Homo sapiens: one gene and its partner. The protein of the gene in region 2 interacts with the protein of the main gene of each other region in a biochemical or structural test. Each region holds a gene or a part of one and is shown on either strand. Other genes may lie near its edges.

What was found.
Region 1: the proteins of ENO1 (region 2) and MYOC interact in far-western blotting, tested with the Homo sapiens proteins (one study listed by BioGRID).

What each region holds. Positions count from the first base shown.
Region 1 is NC_000001.11:171,645,991-171,649,742, forward strand, and holds part of MYOC (myocilin precursor), read right to left. Parts: intron 1-3,752. UniProt on the Homo sapiens protein: Secreted glycoprotein regulating the activation of different signaling pathways in adjacent cells to control different processes including cell adhesion, cell-matrix adhesion, cytoskeleton organization and cell migration.
Region 2 is NC_000001.11:8,876,908-8,880,659, reverse strand, and holds the start of ENO1 (alpha-enolase), read left to right. Parts: upstream 1-1,973; 5' UTR 1,974-2,080; intron 2,081-3,752. UniProt on the Homo sapiens protein: Glycolytic enzyme the catalyzes the conversion of 2-phosphoglycerate to phosphoenolpyruvate. In addition to glycolysis, involved in various processes such as growth control, hypoxia tolerance and allergic responses.

The sequences.
Region 1 (3,752 bases), about 160 Mb from region 2:
CGGCAAGGCCAGTTCCCATTTGGCAGGGGCGATGGTTAAGTTATGAGCCTGCTGGCTTCTTCTAGGTCATGTCAGCCAGGAGCATCTGGCAATGGTCAGACTCCAGGAATAGAGCCATCTGGCATGCGGGTGGAAGCCCAGAATAGAGGATGCAAAACCCAAAGGCAGGGAAACAATCTCGTAAAGGGGCCTGGACCTAAGCCGGAAGTCATAGCTCCTAGTTCAGCTCTGCCATGTCCCAGCTGTGTGACTTTGGGTAAATGACTCCACCTCTCTGAGCCCCAGTATGCTGAGCTGAATTGTTTGGATGATTACATAAGTAACTATAAATGAAATGGCCCTCAATAAAGATGTGTCAACACTAAAATTTCTCTGGAATGTTTTAAAATCACTAACATTTCATTGTGAATGTGGAGGAAAACCAAAAAGAGACTGTGAAAATATTAAGGGCTGTACTGTGTCAGATAGTTAGCATTTTTGGGGCTTTTATTTTTTAAGGTTTTTTTTTTTGTTTTTTTTTTTTTGAGACAGGGTCTCGCTCTGTCACCCAGGCTGGAGTACAGTGGCATGATCTCAGCTCATTGCAACCTCTGCCTCCTGGGTTCAAGTGATTCTTCTGCCTCAGCCTCCTGAGTAGCTGGGACTACAGGTGCCTGCCACCACGCCTGGCTAATTTTTGTATTTTTAGTAGAGACAGGGTTTTACCATATTGGCCAGGCTGGTCACGAACTCCTGACCTCGTGATCCGCCTGCCTCAGCCTCCCAAAGTGCTGGGATTACAGGCGTGAGCCACCACGCCCAGCTGTTTTTTTTCTAGGTTTTTTAAAATGTTAAATTCAGTCCTTCTGTGGTTTAAAGGTTCATGTCTATTACAAAATTCTGGAAATGTTCTGTGTTCTCTGCCGTCGCTTCTTTATAGACTTGGCATTTTAGAGACCTCAACCCGGAAACTGAATTTATTAACTCGTTTGCCTGTAGACATAGGCATTGTAATAATTTTCATAGATATTTTCTATCACTGGAAAGTTCAGTCCATATTACATAAATGAAAGGAATGAAGTAAAACAAGCTATGCCTAATTATCTACAGGTTGTCAGAAACATCTTAGGAAAGTGAAGACTAGCTAATAGACTATTGTCCTGAGTACTGCTCTAACTTGTACTGTCTCTAGAATCAACGCATGTTATTAAAATGTTATGCACATGTTGACATATTGATTATTGAATGATGCTTTAAAACAATAGTGGAACCCTGGCCAGGTGCAGTGGCTCATGCCTGTAATCCCAGCACTTTGGGAGGCTGAGGCGGGTGGATCACGAGGTCGGGAGTTCAAGACCAGCCTGGCCAACATGGTGAAACCCCATCTCCACTAAAAATACAAAAATTAGCCGGGCATGGTGGCGTGTGCCTGTAATCCCAGCTACTTGGGAGGCTGAGGCAGGAGAATTGCTTGAATCCAGGAGGTGGAGGTTGCAGTGAGCCAAGACCACGCCACTGCACTCCAGCCTGGTGATAGAGCGAGACTCCATCTTCAAAAAACAAAACAAAACAAAAAACAAAAACAATAGTGGAACTCAAGTAAAATAAGCCTTTCTAGTTATATTTTATTCACTGGGTGGCCACTGCTCAGCGCTGCACTGGGTGCTTCCCTGTGTGACTGCTAATTTGCATGATGACTCCCATGAGGGATTCTCATCCCCATCCTATTCTAGGTGAGGAAAGGGAATCTGCAGCACTTGTGTTGAACACCTCAGGTTTCTCCCCTCACCCTCCCCTCACATCCTGCCCACTTTTTTGCAGTCATTGCTGAGGCAACCTGCCTCTTGCAGTTATCACCTGCGGGGACCTCGCCTCAGCCACCGTGGCCCAGCTTCTCTGACTTTCTGCATAGAAAGTCTACAAGAACAGGCCAGGCGCCGTGGCTCATGCCTGTAATCCCAGCACTTTGGGAGGTCAAGATGGGTGGATACTTGAGGTCAGGAGTTCAAGACCAGCCTGGCCAACATGGTGAAACCCTGTCTGTACTGGAAAAAAAAAAAAATACAAAAGTTAGCTGGGCGTGGTAGTGTGCACCTGTAATCCCAGCTACTCGGGAGGCTGAGGCAGGAGAATTGCTTGAACCCAGGAGGCGGAGGTTGCAGTGAGCCAAGATCGTGCCACCGCACTCCAGCCTGGGGGACAGAGAAAGACTCCATCTTAAAAAAAAAAAAAAAATCAGTCTGCAAGAACAAACCTCGTCCCCACATCTGAGTATCAGGGAAGCGCAATATACTCCATGGGATAGCCCTTGGCCAAGAGGGTATCAGATCCATGCGTAAACCTCCCCTCTTCTGTTGCAGTCTACACAGCCCCTCTGAAGGGCTTGATGGGATTGAGCCTCCATTGCCCACTGTGGTGACTAGCTGGAGAAGGCCCCCATTTTGTGGCTTTCCTGCCTTCCCTGTCTCACTTTCCCCTGTCTCAACTTCTCTTCTCTAGGATCATGGTCCATATAAACCAACTGCACACAAGCCCTCTTCCAGGCTCTGTTCAACAGGAGACCAGTCCAAAGCAGGGGCTAAATAACAAACAAAGCAGTCCTTCTCTTGTGACAGTAATAACCAACTCTAATTTATCTTCTAGTAAATTATATATGTATTTTATTATATATATAATAAATTTATATATATAATTATATATATTTATATGTATTATATGTAATATATATATTTTTTTGAGATGGAGTCTCGCTCTGTCACCCAGGCTGGAGTGCAGTAGCGTGATCTTGGCTCACTGCAACGTCTGCCTCCCAGGTTCAAGCGATTCTCCTGCCTCAGCCTCTGGAGTAACTGGATTACAGGTGCCCGCCACCACACCCGGCTAATTTTTGTATTTTTAGTAGAGACAAGTTTTCACCACAGTGGCCAGGCTGGTCTTAAACTCCTGACCTCAAGTGATCTGTCCACCTCGGCCTCCCAAAGTGCTAAGGTTACAGGTGTGAGCCACCACACTTGGCTAATTGTATTTTTTTTCTACTTTTCAAAAACTATTATATATACATAAAATTTATATATGTATATATATGAAAATTTATATAAGCCCAGAGAAGAAAAAGTTATATATAACTTTGTAGTAATAGTTATGTAGTAAAATATGTCATATTATGTGTATGTATAAACAAGTGATTTCTATGATTATAAGGAATTTTTTTCTACATAACAACTATTAATACATGATCAAGAAAGTGGTGGTAACAATTTGAGTTGCAGGTGGAATACAGAAAGGCTGCCTTCTCAGGCCTTACCTTTGTCCACTCAGCCTCACTAAGCTTCTCTACCCAAACCTTCACACCTAGTTCTTGCCACTCCTGCAAAAAAGCATACCTAGACTTATATTCCAGCCTCCAGAATGCCCCCTTTTCCCTAGATCTGGCCTTGAAACAGATCTTTTGTTCCAAGCATTCCTGTACCTTTCTGTCTTTTACCTTTAGGGTCTATAAACCAGAGGTCAGCTGAAGGTCTTGAAAGTCAATGAACCTCATGGCCATGTACAGGGAGGGCTCACACCTGTAATCCCAGTGCTTTGGAAGGCCGAGGTCGGCAGATCACCTGAGGTCAGGAGTTCGAGACTAGCCTGACCAACATGGTGAAACCCTGTCTCTACTAAAAATACAAAATTAGCCGGGCATGGTGGCACATGCCTATAATCCCAGCTACTCAGGAGGCTGAGGTAGGAGAATTGCTTGAACCCGGGAGGCAGAGGTTTCAGTGAGC
Region 2 (3,752 bases):
ACAAGCTTACAGCAAGTGAGAAATAATAACTAAATGCAATGCCGTTGTGCTGACTACAAGCAAATGTGAACCCCACAGCCTGCTAACAAAGCCTAAGGAGCTATGGAAACAGGGAGGGCATTTGGCAGCCTGTGAATTTTGAAAAAGATTTCAGGACATCTCTAGTAATCATTAACATTTTAGCTACAATGTGAGGTCGAAGTGCTGGCTCAGAATGTGGCGCTGCAGCCTCCAAGAATCTTGCAACGGCAGCAGTCCGGGATCATGTTCGGCCTCTGATTTCCTGCTAGATTTACTGGTTCTGGCCACAGCAGAGTATCTTTATCTCTCTAACCATTTTTATGTAAAATAAGATTGTTTGGAGCCCTTTCAGGGCCACGCCTTAGAATTGCTCTGAGAGTACCAAGTGCCTGATTTCTTAGAGTCCTTACCAGTAGGAGATGTTGGCTGTTGATTTAGCTGCTGAGTCATGGGGCTGGGGATAGTGGTTTTCAGTAGCCAAAAACGTTAGTGTGTTGCTGGTGAAATCACAAACTCTGCTTGCAAAATTTTACTCTTTTTTTTTTTCTTTTTGCTGAATTTAATCCTAAAGTTCTTGCTTCTTACTCACTGGAAAGCAAATACTATGGTCTCAATAGGCCTTAATTTTTAACCAACGCCATGGAAACCTGTCTGTAGCTAAGAGGATAAAAATGCTAGGGGTTAAGGAAGAAAAGCAGGTTTTGCAGCTGACCAGAAGAAATAATTAAATTCAAGTACATATTTGAACACCTCTTTACAAGGAAATGAGGAAAATCAGATGTTTTAGTTCTCTTACAGACCAGCAGTAATGTTGAAAAATATAAAAGTAGCCGTAACAGAAAACGAAGTGATCATCTCAGCCCTCCCTTGGAGTGGGGGGATATATTGCGGAGCTGAGTTTTAATGGCTATCAGTTCTTGATCAGAAAAGTGAAATCACTCCAACTCCTTCCGTATTCCACGGAATATGACCCGTCTTGAACTTTGAGAAATTCCCCGGGTCTGTGTGAAATTCCAGTTCCAAATAATTCACATGAATGGTTCACAAGAATCCAGGTAGGTTTGATCTAGTTCCCTAGATGGGAATGAGAGGGATGTAAAATTTGAGAGGCAACATGACATGGACTAGAGAGAGAATGAATTAACACTGGGGAAGCACGTGGGGGCGCGCCGGACACCTAGAAGGCACTCAAAAAGTATGAGGTAGAATTAAAGGAAAGTGAACCTTCCTTTGGCTGTCTCGGCCTGATTCTCACCGCAGCAAGGAGAAAGGGACAGGGTCACCTTGGCGGGTGCCAGGCGGAGCCCGGCCAGACGGGCGCGGCTGGAGGGCAGCGCGCAGGCGCAGGCGGCGCACGTGGCCCCGGACACGCAGCGCTGCGGCGGGGCCAGCGCCCCAACCCCGGAGTGGGGCCGAGGCGCGCAGCCTCTCAACGACTCGACGCCAACGGGGTCTCTCGGATCGCGGCGCGAGGCAGGAGGGGCGGGGCAGGAGGGCCGCGGCAGGCCCGGGCCGCCAAAGTTGTCAGCAAGGTCGAGGGCCGGACGTGGGGCCCCAGAGCGACGCTGAGTGCGTGCGGGACTCGGAGTACGTGACGGAGCCCCGAGCTCTCATGCCCGCCACGCCGCCCCGGGCCATCCCCCGGAGCCCCGGCTCCGCACACCCCAGTTCGGCTCACCGGTCCTATCTGGGGCCAGAGTTTCGCCCGCACCACTACAGGGCCGCTGGGGAGTCGGGGCCCCCCAGATCTGCCCGCCTCAAGTCCGCGGGACGTCACCCCCCTTTCCACGCTACTGCAGCCGTCGCAGTCCCACCCCTTTCCGGGAGGTGAGGGAATGAGTGACGGCTCTCCCGACGAATGGCGAGGCGGAGCTGAGGGGGCGTGCCCCGGAGGCGGGAAGTGGGTGGGGCTCGCCTTAGCTAGGCAGGAAGTCGGCGCGGGCGGCGCGGACAGTATCTGTGGGTACCCGGAGCACGGAGATCTCGCCGGCTTTACGTTCACCTCGGTGTCTGCAGCACCCTCCGCTTCCTCTCCTAGGCGACGAGACCCAGTGGCTAGGTAATGATTGGGGAAGGGCTGAGCAACGGGCAGGCGGCGCAGGGCTTTTCTGGGCTTGTGGGGCTCTTTTCCCTCCGAGGGAGGCGGCGCGCCCGCAGGCCCAGCGTGGCGGGGTCGGGGGCACGTGCAAGCCGCCTCCCTGGGTGGGAACTGGCGCCCCCGCTCACCCCGAGGCCCGGGGCGGGGGCGCAATGCCAGGCGCACGTGCTGGGCCCCCGATTTCTTTGGAGGGGAAAGTGCAGATCAACACGTGATTACCGACTGCGGGGCCGAGTCACTGTCAGGGAAGGTCGGGAGCTGCACACGCGAGCTGCTTAGCACAGCGGGAGTTGGGAGTGGAAGTTGCTTTTCCATCGTAGCCAAGTGTAAGGTTTTTGGGATAGACGCAGACTTAGCGGCGGTGGCCACTCAGGCCAGGCCCTTCCTAAAATGGAGGAGGGCGGCGATAGTGGAGATGGCCACGAGGCTGCGGCCCCCTCCCCCACCGGTAGCCCCCGCCTCTCGCCCGCGCTCGCGGCCCGCGCTTCTGCCTAGTAAGCGGTGACTCATTTAACTCCGAGAAGGCACCTCTTGAGGAACCTACAGCAGAGCCGTTAGATCATTGGCAAGTCCTCCAGGCGACCTCGCCCAAGTTGGGCAAGAGCGGCTCCCCGGCTGGCCACCAAAAATCGGGCCTGATCTGATTTGGTTTTTTTTTTTTTTTGAGTTTTGCTATTGTTGCCCAGGCTGGAGTGCAATTGCGCGATCTCGGATCTCGGTTCACCGCAACCTCGGCCTCCTGGGTTCAAGCGATTCTCCTACCTCAGCCTCCCGAGTAGCTGGGATTACAGGCATGCGCCACCACGCCCGGCTAATTTTGTTTTTTTTTTGTTGTTGTTGTTGTTTTAGTAGAGGCGGTGTTTCACCATGTTGGCCAGGCTGGTCTTGAGCTCCCGACCTCAGGTGATCCGCCCGCCTCGGCCTCCCAAAGTGCTGGGATTACAGGCGTGAGCCACCGCGCTAGGCCAAGAAGGATGTATTTTAAGAAAGCTTCCTGTTCAATGTTCCCCTGCTCTGTGCGCTTCTCTGGGCGGTAGGGTCCATTGCTTCACTTGCCTTTCAGGCCCACCCGGGCCCTGACTGCTCCATTCATTTACCGTGTCCCTAATTCGGGGTTCCATCCAGGCAGCTAAAAAAGCTGTGAATGGTCCGGGCGCGGTGGCTCACGCCTGTAATCCGAGCACTTTGGGATGCCGAGGTGGGCCTCCTCAGGATCACCTGAGGTCGGGAGTTAGAGACCAGCCTGACCAACGTGGTGAAACCCCGTCTCTACTGAAAATACAAAAATCGACCAGGCGCGGTGGCTCACGCCTGTAATCCTAGCACTTTGGGAGGCCGAGGTGGGTGGCTCACGAGGTCAGGAGATCGAGACCATCCTACTCTACTAAACCCCATCTCTACTAAAAATACAAAAAATTAGCCGGGTGTGGTGGTGGGCGCCTGTAGTCCCAGCTACTCTGGAGGCGGAGCCTGCAGTGAGTCGAGATCGTGTCACTGCACTCTAGCCTGGGCGAAAGAGCGCGACTCCGTCTCAAAAAAAAAAAAAAATCACCTGGGCGTAATGGCAGGCGCCTGTAATCCCACCTACTCGGGAGGCTGAGACAGGAGGCTGAGGTTGCAGTGAGCCAAAATG